2 separate regions of the Homo sapiens genome follow, and region 2 is linked to region 1. Evidence: fine-mapped expression QTL. A gene starts in region 1. The other region holds a variant in brackets. All regions are shown on one strand. Distances are between the middles of the regions.

Region 1 (5,230 bases):
GCCTGCTCCAAATGATGCAGAGATGCTTACTAGAGTGAGAGACGAACCAAAGGGTGCAGAAGCACACACAGTGCGGGCAGCAGCCCCAGCCTGAACCCTGCACGGACCTGACCAAGGACACCCCATACTCCTAAGGAGGCTCACAATATAGACCAGGAATGAGCAAATAGCAAACGATAGATACAGTCAAGCCCCCAGTTGTGGGATGCCAGCCAGCAATGGTTGTGCCCAGATGTCAGACCCCCAGTGAGGGGGATCTAGATGTGGGGTCCTAAAAAGTGGAACTAGCCACAGAACAGCCTAAGCCTGCCTGGTAAAGGCACAGGCGCCAGTCAGAGTGGCCAGTCCACAAAACAGTCAGTCCCACACACCCCCGCTCCATTCACACATGCTTCACACGCAGTCTTAGCACATGCACACGCTGACACGTGTGCATACACACCTCTTGCTGCACCCACACCATGCCCACTCCTTGTGACAGAGGACAGCATCCCTGGCACAGATATCTCAGATCCACCCCCCGCCCCCCACCACCCCTCACCCCACCTTCCAAGCCGGCTGTCCCTGGGACTGAGGTTGAGGGGCACCACCACAGAGAGGATGCCGGAGGAGGTGGCCCCCTCTGAGGGGACCAGCACCTTGGGCGAGAGGTGGCAAGACAGAGCCCAGCATCTATCCTGAGGCCAGGAAGCACACACTCACCTGGAGCTGCAGTGGAGGCCTGCAGGCTGGCCCGCTTCTTAAAGGGATATTTGGCCTTGGGCTTGCCAGAGCCAGATGGATAGGATGCCATGGCTGGGACCACGGCGGCGACAGCGGGGGAGTCTGAGCGGCACCGGCTGGGGCCTGGCTCTGCCACATCCAACCCCTTCCTCCGCCCCGCCCCCAGCGGGAGTGACTGATGCAGGAAGCAGCGGCTCCGCAGGCGGAAGAGGCCCTGGCCACGATTTCTCATGTTGTCTAGGCAACCTCGGGGAGTGGGGCCTCCATCTCTGCCCCTTATCCCTCCCCTGCCTCCTCAGTCCCAGGAGTGACGTGACTGATGGTGGCTGGGCCTGGCGGGGGGCGGGGAGGGGGTGGGTAGAAAAGAAGATGGGGAAGGGCCAGCCCCCAGCTCTCCACTAACCCACCAAGAGCCCTCACCCCATCATGCCAGGGCTCCCGGGCAAAGAAGCCAAAGTCCAGGCTAGCTGGTCCTTCCAGCTAGCCTGGAAGAAAAAAGAATAACAAACAGGAATTCAGCAGCGAGCGAGTCCAAGCTCAAACACAGTCCTCCCGGGGCAGGGCAGGCATACTCCGTGAAAACCCAGCACCCACTTTCCTTCCACATCTGACCCTCAGCTCCCGGGGTAGCCCAGCTCTGGGAGGAGGGGGAAGAACCGAGAATCCCAGCCCAGGAGGGAGGGGCCTGTCCCGGGAAAATTCCACCGTCGCCAAATAGCTACCTCCCAGGAAGGCAGGAAGGCCAGGAGACCCCCTTGTCTGGGGGTCTGGGACAGAGACCCTAGCCTCTTTGGATTTTTCCTCTGTCTCTGCACACTCTGGCTCTGCTCCCCAGGCCCTCCTGGGAGGAGCTGACCGCCTTCCCTAGGTCCTGCTGCTGTGCTGTGACTCCCACCCTCTTGTCACTCTGGCCACAGCACTTCTCTGTCCCAGAGACCCTCCCTCCAACACACGTACACACACTCACCTGAGGCCATGATGCCCGAGTTCCGAGGGGAGGCTGCCCACGAGAAGTCTGTACAGCAGAAAGCCCGGGTCCTGAGGGACGGCAGGGGGATCGGGCCACAGACCCCAGCCAAGTCACTCCAAGGGCCCCTGCCCTGGCACTGAGATGGGGAAAGTAAGGCAGTCTTTCAAAATTGCCAGCTGGCCGGAGGTGGACTCCCGCAGACCTCGGCAGCCGGACTGGCCTCAAGGCGACCCCGGTGTCGCGACCACCCAACCCTGCAATCGAGAGGCTGGTAGGCCACGTGCTCCCAAGGGAGCGGGACCCGAAACTCGTCCAGATTTCTCTCAACACTCCCTGGGCATTCAGGGTCGGACTCCCGCGGCCGGACTGTGGGGGAGTCACGCAACAGGTGAGACCCCACCAAAATCTCGCCGGCTCCGCGCCAGGCTCTGCGGCCCTTGGCCCCGCCCCCGCCTGGCCCCGCCTCCGCCTGCCGACCCCGCCTCGCCATTTTTTTCTCTTCCTGGGCGCCACGTGGGCAGCCACCACACCGCGGTAGGGCTGGCCTGAGCCGACCCTGGGTCTTGGGCCAGTTCCGTGCGTCAGCTTCCTCATCAGTAAGATGGGGTAATGACAGTACCTCACTCAAAGGGGTTACTGTGAAGATTAAACGTAAAGTCCCTTTACACAGTGCCTGGCACGAAGTGAGGGCCCAGTGAAAGGTAGCTGTTATCATTGTCCCAGGATTCATTTTAAGCAGAAGTCCTGCCCCTGCAATCTCACTTGGTCGTCTGTTTTCTTCCGGCCGGCGTAGGTAGGAGGCTGTGCCCTGCAATTCTGGCTCCCCTTCCCACATTTCTGTATTTGGTGGTTAAGAGCTTTAACTCTAGCCAGAATGTCTGGGTTCAAATCCAGATTTCACCTACTTCCTGACTGATACTGGGCAAGTTACCTAACTTCTCTGTGCTTCTATTTCGTCTGTAAAATGAGTGTAAGAGTACCTGCTTTATATGGTGGTTAAGATAAATGAGTTAATATAAGTTAACTGCTTAGAACTGTGCCTGGCCTGTAGTTAGTACTCAGTATTCATGTATTACCATTGCTTTAGCCTTGGCCTTGGTTCTCTATTGACACTCACAGGTTGATTCACTTGCAGCCGTTCTGGGGTCTATCCAACAAGCATCCCCACTGCCAAGGGGTAGATAATCCGACCTAAAGGGAACTTGTGGAGGGAAGTCCCTAAGACTTCACTGAATATAATTAAATGCATTAGCAGGAATTAATCTCTTCCCTATTTTCCCTCTTGTGGGAGGCCTTTGCCCCCCACACCCAGTTGTTCTAATGCTGTTTGTCTGGCTCCTCCCAGTTCTTACCACTCCCACAGCAGAGATCCTTCCCAAACTCTGCCTCCCTCTTCTCTCCCCACGCTGGATTCTGGACCCTGAACCCTTTTCTCCACCTGCATCTGGTGCCACTTCCATTGATCCCTGGCTACTGTTCCCTGAACAAACTTAAAAAAAACTTGGCCTCTTCACCTCACACAGAATCCATAAAACTAAAAAGAGAACAGAGATAACCAGGTTTACCTAATCAAAATAGCAAAGACTAAAAAACAAAAAACCAAAAAATAAACGCTAATGCAGGTTGGCAAGGGTATAGTTAGTGAGATGGGAGACACACACACACGTACATGTGCACAAACACATTACTGGTGGCCTTGAACACTGATATAATCTTTCTGAAAGCCATCTGGTAATATAGAATCAAAATTTTCAAAAAGGTTCTTATTATTTGACCCAGTAATCAACTTTCTGGAAGTTGTTTTTCTAAAAAGAGCTGCCAGAAAAATATGTATGCAAAAAGTTGTTCAGCACCACAATGTGTATTGCATAGAAAAGTTAGATACTTTAAAGGTCGAACAATAGGGGAATGTTTATGTAATATTCATACCATGAAATACAGCCATTAAAAATTGTTCTTGGAGAAATGTTTAATGATGTGGAAATGTTTACAATATAAAGTTAGGTAAAAGAATGGATGCAAAACACTATACACAGTATGGTCCTACTTATGTGATATACATGGGTAGAAAAGAAACACACCAACAAGTTTACCAATGATTATCTGTAGTGATGGAATTATGGGTTATATTTATTTTCTTTATATTTATTTGCATTTTAGAAATTATAATACATACCCATAACTTTTATAATCAAGGGGATAGAAATCAACAAAAATCTGTAAAAATCTGTAATTGCCTCCACAGTCCCCCCAACCCAGCCTTCCCGGGGTCTTAACCCCAGACTTAAACTATTCTGTTTACATTTATGGCCCACTGAATTGGTCTTGGGGCGCTTAGGGATTTTGAGGCTGATGGACTCTCAAGAATGAATAAAATGAATCTCAAAAATCAAGCACCATGTAACTACATAAATGTCATGTATCTTCTGATAAGATGCAAATGTTGACATAGTTTTAAAGATAGTATCTTGCATTGGGCCAGGTCTCTTGAGCATCCTGCTTAATGCAGACCTACCTACCTCAGCAGCCAATAGGTGGCAATCCTTGCCCTCCACCCAGCCCAGGCAAACCAGTTCATTAGTCCCTTTATGCTAGTCCCCTAGTCCCATCTGCAACACACCCTTCACTCTACAACCCTCCCCTATTTCCAGGTCATCTGGTGTATTGTTGCTGCTAGGAAGTCGGCCCTGATTATAGTTAGGCATCAATCCCTCCACCCACTCCATACCAGCAAGAATCTCAGTGAGGTTTCATTGTCTACGCAGAACAGAGCTTGGGAAATAAAGGAGTGAGTCATCCTATGGCCTGGGCTTTTTTCACACTGAGGCCTTAACATTCATTGCCTTTGAGCCTCTGAGATATTCCCTAGCTCCAAACACAGCTTCCTCCCCTCCTAGCCTGTTCCCCACATGGCTCCTTAACTGGCCCTCCCGGAATCCCAGCTCCCTAAAGATGGTGCACTCCTGTTTCTCTGAAGAAGTGCTTTTCTTTGCTTCTGGACTTCAGCTCACTTGTGATGTCCGCCTCCCTAGCTAGGCCAGAACAATCTTCACAGATACTAAACTTGGGAGAGAATATCTGCAGCTCCAAAAAGGTCCTTGGCCAAGGCAATTTCCCAAACCATACCTTATGCCTAGGCCCTTCTAGAAACAAGCTGTTCAGCTCTGGTTTCTCAGCTTCTCCCAGCAGCCAGCTCCCTCTCCCCCTCACCTCAGTCACCCAGCATTGTGTTTATAGCACCATACAGCTGTTTCCATCTATACTTGTTTATAAGACCCCAGTGGATTTTAGTCAAACCCCTTGCCATTGAAGGCGCTTCACTGGCTGGCTCCAATTTCCCTTTCTTGTCTTCATCTTCACCTCCCAACCCTCCACTCCATGCACCTTTCACTCCAGTCCAGTCACATCAAAGTCCCAGTCTTCTCTGAGCACACCTTGTACTTTGTGCCTCTACCTCTTTTTTCATGCTCTTTCCTTTCCCCAAAATGCGTATCTCCCACTTCCACTGTTATTCTGCTTCTCTGTGGAAAGTCTATT
Region 2 (5,230 bases), 30 kb after region 1:
AACTGGGTCGGATCATGCTAAAAGGAGATAATATTACTCTGCTACAAAGTGTCTCCAACTAGAAAGGATCAATGAAGTGAGAAATTGTTGAGAAGGATACAGTTTGCTTTTAGATGTCCTTTTTCCAATATGAACATTCATTCATAGTGTTTTGATTACCCTTATGTTACTAAAAGATGGCAATAAACGCTATGGGATTGTTTGTATTAAAACAAAAAAAAAAGGAATTCAACAAGGTAAATTGTTCTTTTCAAAATCATTCCACAGTTTTAAAGAGGTTTAGCTTCAAAGCCTTAAGGTAATAATTTAAATAAGGAAAAGCAATACACTTTAAAAGAGTGAATTTTAGGGTTTCCCAATTATATCTCAATGAAGCTATTATTTTTTACAAAAAGAAAGGTGACAGGAACCAAAAGCAAAGCCTGTCTCAACAATATTTGTAATTAATACCCTTAAATCACCTGCTTTTTACACCATCTTGTCTACTTATAGAACCTTTAGAGTAGCCTTAGAAACTGGCTATAAAGCCAGGGAAACGCAACAAAGACAATTCATTATTCCAATAAACTACAGGCTATTTTCAGTAACGTGAAGCATAACAAAAATATCAATAACAAAGATATAAAGAAGACCAGGTAACAAAACGGAGCTTAAGAAAAAAGGAGCTGGGTGCGGTGGCTCACATCTGTAATCCCTGCACTTTGGGGGCCGCAGCAGGTGGATCGCTTGAGGTCAGGAGTTCAACACCAGCCTGGCTAACTTAGTGAAACCACATCTCTACTAAAAATCAAAAAATCATTAGCTAGGCCTGGTGGTGGGCACCTGTAGTAGAGCTGAGGCACAAGAAGCACTTGAATCTGGGAGGTGGAGGTTGCAGTGAGCCGAGATCATGCCACTGCATTTCTGTCTGGGAGACAGAGCAAGACACTGTCTCAAAAAAAAAAAAGGAAAGGAAAAGAATATTAATTAAAATATTTAAAGAACTGAAGGAAAACAGCTTTGTAGGTGCTTGAAGCAGGTTCTTAAAATCTGGAAAACAACCTCTGTAAATTAAAGGAGGCAGATGAGTGAAAAGTGAATTTTGTCTGCTAGGAACAGATAATAATACCTGGCAAATAAGGACCGTAAGAATCTGTACACAGAATGAAGACAATGGAGGATAGGCTTGGAAGTTAACAACAACAAAGAAAATGGAAATGATATTAAAGGCTCTTTGCTTTGTGTGAAGACTCTAAGCTGGGCCTTCAACATTAATGCCAATTATTTTACTTGTCTTACATCTCTCTCCCCCAATCCTAAAACTTGGTTGCTTTCTATAAACTCACCTTATTCTCACCTCCCTCTGTTCTTTACTCTGAACAGGTAACCACATTTCCAACTTCCTTGATAAAACAGAGGCCATGAGGATTAAACTACATCTCAACTTTTTGGCCTACCACCTCACTCAAAATGTTACATATCTGCACTTATTTGTACTTCTGGTCTTAGAGGTGTCTTACTTCTTGCTCAAAAATCAATTGCTCTACCTATACTCTTTTAAAAAAATTATTGAGGAAAATTAACATAACAGATATTTAACCATTTTAAAGTGTACAATTCTGTGGCACTTAGTGTATTCACAATGTTATGCAATCACCACCTCTCTCTAGTGACAAAACTTTTTCAACACCCTATTCCCATTAAGTAATCACTCCCTTTTCTTCCCATTCTCCCACTTCTCATAACCACTAATATTCTTTCTGTCTCTATGGACAGAAATTGCCCTATTTTGGATATATCATATAATAGAAGTATTGGCCTCTTTTACTTAGCACAGTGTTTTGAGTTTCATACAAGTTGTACCATCTATTATTATTCCTTTTCTTGGGTAAGTAATATTCATTGTATGTATATAACACAATTTGTTTATCCATTTATCCTACCTAGACTCTTAATTCCTTTTTTCCCACCTGCTTGCAAATCTTGCTCCTTCAATTACATCTGTTTTTTAATGTATCTCTTTTGCTTATAGGATCTTAGCCCTCAGCCTATAAACATTCTTAAATCTCTCCCTTCCCTTTAAACCCACGTTGCTCAAGAGTAGTCTACACTTGTCTTCTTTCTTCACTTTCCATTCTGTAACTCACTGTACTCAACTTTCCACTGACACTGCTCTCAACAGCAGGTCAACGACCTCCTAACTGTTAACTCCAAAGGCTCTTTTTCAGTATGTATCTTACTTATCTGCAGATAACACTGTTGACTGAAATATTTAATCAACTCACTTTTTAACCTCTCCTTTTGGTTATGATATCTTTCTTCCTCTCCTGCCAATAGAGGCTGCTATTCTCTCTCGTTCTACCTGTGGTCCTTTTTCTCCTCATTCTATAATATTATCTCCATAGGTCATTTCACCCATTTCCATGTTTTCACTACTGATGATCTCAAACCCCAACCTCTCCTCAACCTCGAATATAACTGTCCATGAGATATTATTTCAACGTTCTATGAATAATTAAAAATCAACATTCCTATACATGAATTCAGGTCACAGCACCAGCATCCAAGACAGAAACCTGGGAGTACCTCTGACTCTTCCCACTTCCTTACCCCTGCTTTACCCCTTCACTTTATTGATTGATTGATTGATTGATTGATTGATGGAGTCTCACTCTGTCACCAGGCTGGAGTGCAGTGGTGCGATCTCGGCTCACCGCAACCTCCGCCTCCC[G/A]GGTTCAAGCGATTCTCCTGCCTCAGCCTCCCGAGTAGCTGGGATTACAGGCGCACACCACCATGCCCAGCTAATTTTTCTATTTTTAGTAGAGACAGGGTTTCACCACATTGGTCAGGATGGTCTCGATCTCTTGACCTCATGATCCACCTGCCACGGCCTCCCAAAGTGCTGGGATTACAGGCATGAGCCACTGCACCCAGCCTCACTTTATTATAGAAAGCATTTACAGTGTCTCTGCTAATAAGAGTTCCCCTTCTCTGGAAATACCTGATTCTGATCTATAAGTTTCATAGTGATCCATCCCTGGCAGTTACATTTGTGCCCCTGACCTCAACTGATTGGCCTACAGATTTCTGCCTGACTTAACCACGGCCAGAATCTCTCTCCTTGGAATTTGAAACCAAGGCCAAGCAATCCCAGTCTAGTCTGATCTTTTTTTTTTTTTTGCTCAGTCGCCCAGGCTGGAGTGCAGTGGCGCGATCTCGGCTCACTGCAAGCTCTGCCTCCCGGGTTCATGCCATTCTCCTGCCTCAGCCTCCCGAGTAGCTGGGACTACAGGTGCCTGCCACCAAGCCCAACTAATTTTTTTTGTATTTTTAGTGGAGACGGGGTTTCACTGTGTTAGCCAGGATGGTCTCGATCTCCTAACCTCATGATTCACCCGCCTCGGCCTCCCAAAGTGCTGGGATTACAGGCGTGAGCCACCGCGCCCAGCCTAGTCTGATCTTTTTACCAGAGATACAGAAACTGTGACTAGGCTGTTATCACATAAACTGAATAGCAGAGAAAGCTGGTTAGGAAAGAAAGAATAATAAAAAAGATACACAGAGAGGAGAGAAAAAAGATGGGGATAAAGAGTGCTTCCAGGGTTCCTGACAATTATTTCCTAGTTCTAATTCCATTCTAAGACCTGTCCATTCTTGCCCTTGGGTTCTATGATATATCCCTTAATCCCCATCAAAAGTTTTTATTTCCATCCTGAGTTCTTACTAATTCAAATCCCCTACTATCTATCTTTATTATTTATTGCATAATCTTTCTCAAGCACAGTTTCTTCTATATCATGCACCCCATGATATGGATCATGGTAGGATATTAAACCTTTAACTGATCATCGTCTCAGCATGAGATATAAGGCCCTCCATGAGTTGATCTCTGACCATCTCTCCAACCACTTCTTCCCTGCCACTGTAAACTCTAGTAATACCAAATTCCTTCTGGGTTCCACAACTGGTCATACCATTTTCCTACCTCCATATTCTCATATATGCAATTCCTCTTTTCTAAAATGCTTTTATTCCCGTCTGCCTGATGATTTCTATTTCATCCTCTTAGTAGCTCTAGAAAAAGACTACAGTGACCCCATCAGAAGTAACCACTTCTATTCCACTTCTATTAATGCATATTTTACACTATAATAAAATTATTTATGTGCAATTAAACACTATAATAAAATTATTTATGTCTCTCTGCAACTACATGTCAGTCTCTTGGGCACAATGATTAAAATTTACCCTTGTATTTTCTTCAACATATACCAAATTTTACTTTATTTTTTGTGAGGCAGGGGGGTGTCACTATGTTGCCTAGACTGATCTCAAACTCTTGGGCTCAAATGATCCTCCTGCCTCAAGCTTCCAAGTAGCTAGAATTATAGCCACCATGCCCAGCTCCCAAATTTACTTTTTCTCCTTTTGTATTTTCCTCAAAAAATGAAGATAGAAATTTAAAATAAACACAGAAAACTCAATTGTGTCTGATATGGCACTCTTGACTTAGGGGCTTTTAATCACAGGCTTAATGCCAATGCCACTACCACTGAATACTCTCCCAATCAATCATTAAAAAAAAAAAGGCAGTTTTATGAATGCCACCAAAGTGTTGATCTAAGTAAGATGTGTACCTCCAATAAAATCTTTCATAACCCCTTACCTGTGTATTCTGGATAACAGATAGTTAACGGACTCCTCTTTATTTTTTCCTCAAAAAGGTCTTTCTTGTTAAGGAAGAGAATGATTGAAGTTTCTGTAAACCATTTGTTATTACAAATGCTGTCAAACAGTTTCATGCTTTCATGCATTCGGTTCTGAAAAAGAAATAAAGGATGATAGGTCAGTAGCAAATAGTAAAAGTGGATTAAGTTAATGAAAAAGACAAACCAACAAGTTTTGCAGCACTAAATGGCATTCACGGAAATAAGTCAAACACCAATAAGATAAAGTTGAGTGTCAGTCCTCATTTTTGTAATTTTTGGGGGAGAGGAGGTAGGAGGAAGGGCTGGCTAACATCCTTTCCACATACTCAAGGTGGCTATAACATCTTTTTTAGAGTAATAGGGCACAGATCAAAAAAATTAAAGATACTAAGTTTTGGTTGAATGAGGAAATGGATGCAGATAATCTTCCTAATAAGTTATTTTCCATTTCCTGGCTACATTAGACAGGCTTTTTACCAGAAGCTCCAACATACCATCTCCTCGTCCTCAGCCAGAACAAGGTCATAATCACTGAGGGCCAC

Evidence for each region. PIP is the estimated chance that this variant, and not a neighbour inherited with it, causes the effect.
Region 2: its variant is the best candidate, but not a certain one, in a credible set for the expression of GNAT2 in whole blood (INTERVAL, PIP 0.61).

The regions. Positions count from the first base shown.
Region 1 is chr1:109,616,739-109,621,968 of GRCh38, reverse strand. It overlaps GNAT2 (G protein subunit alpha transducin 2), which reads left to right and starts at 2,353. Exons shown (of 9, transcript NM_001377295.2): 1 at 2,353-2,486. It overlaps AMPD2 (adenosine monophosphate deaminase 2), which reads right to left and starts at 2,132. Exons shown (of 19, transcript NM_001368809.2): 1 at 1,691-2,132; 2 at 703-1,055. The coding sequence starts at 793. RefSeq lists enhancers at 655-774, 847-1,375, 1,335-1,384, 1,906-2,434, 2,405-2,454 and 1 more and a silencer at 2,025-2,214.
Region 2 is chr1:109,586,298-109,591,527 of GRCh38, reverse strand. GNAI3 (G protein subunit alpha i3) reads right to left here. Exons shown (of 9, transcript NM_006496.4): 6 at 5,183-5,230; 7 at 4,646-4,799. It also overlaps the pseudogene RNU6V. Among named protein-coding and RNA genes, the nearest start is that of MIR197, 10 kb to the left of the region's middle. The variant G/A (reference allele first, on the strand shown) is at 2,711.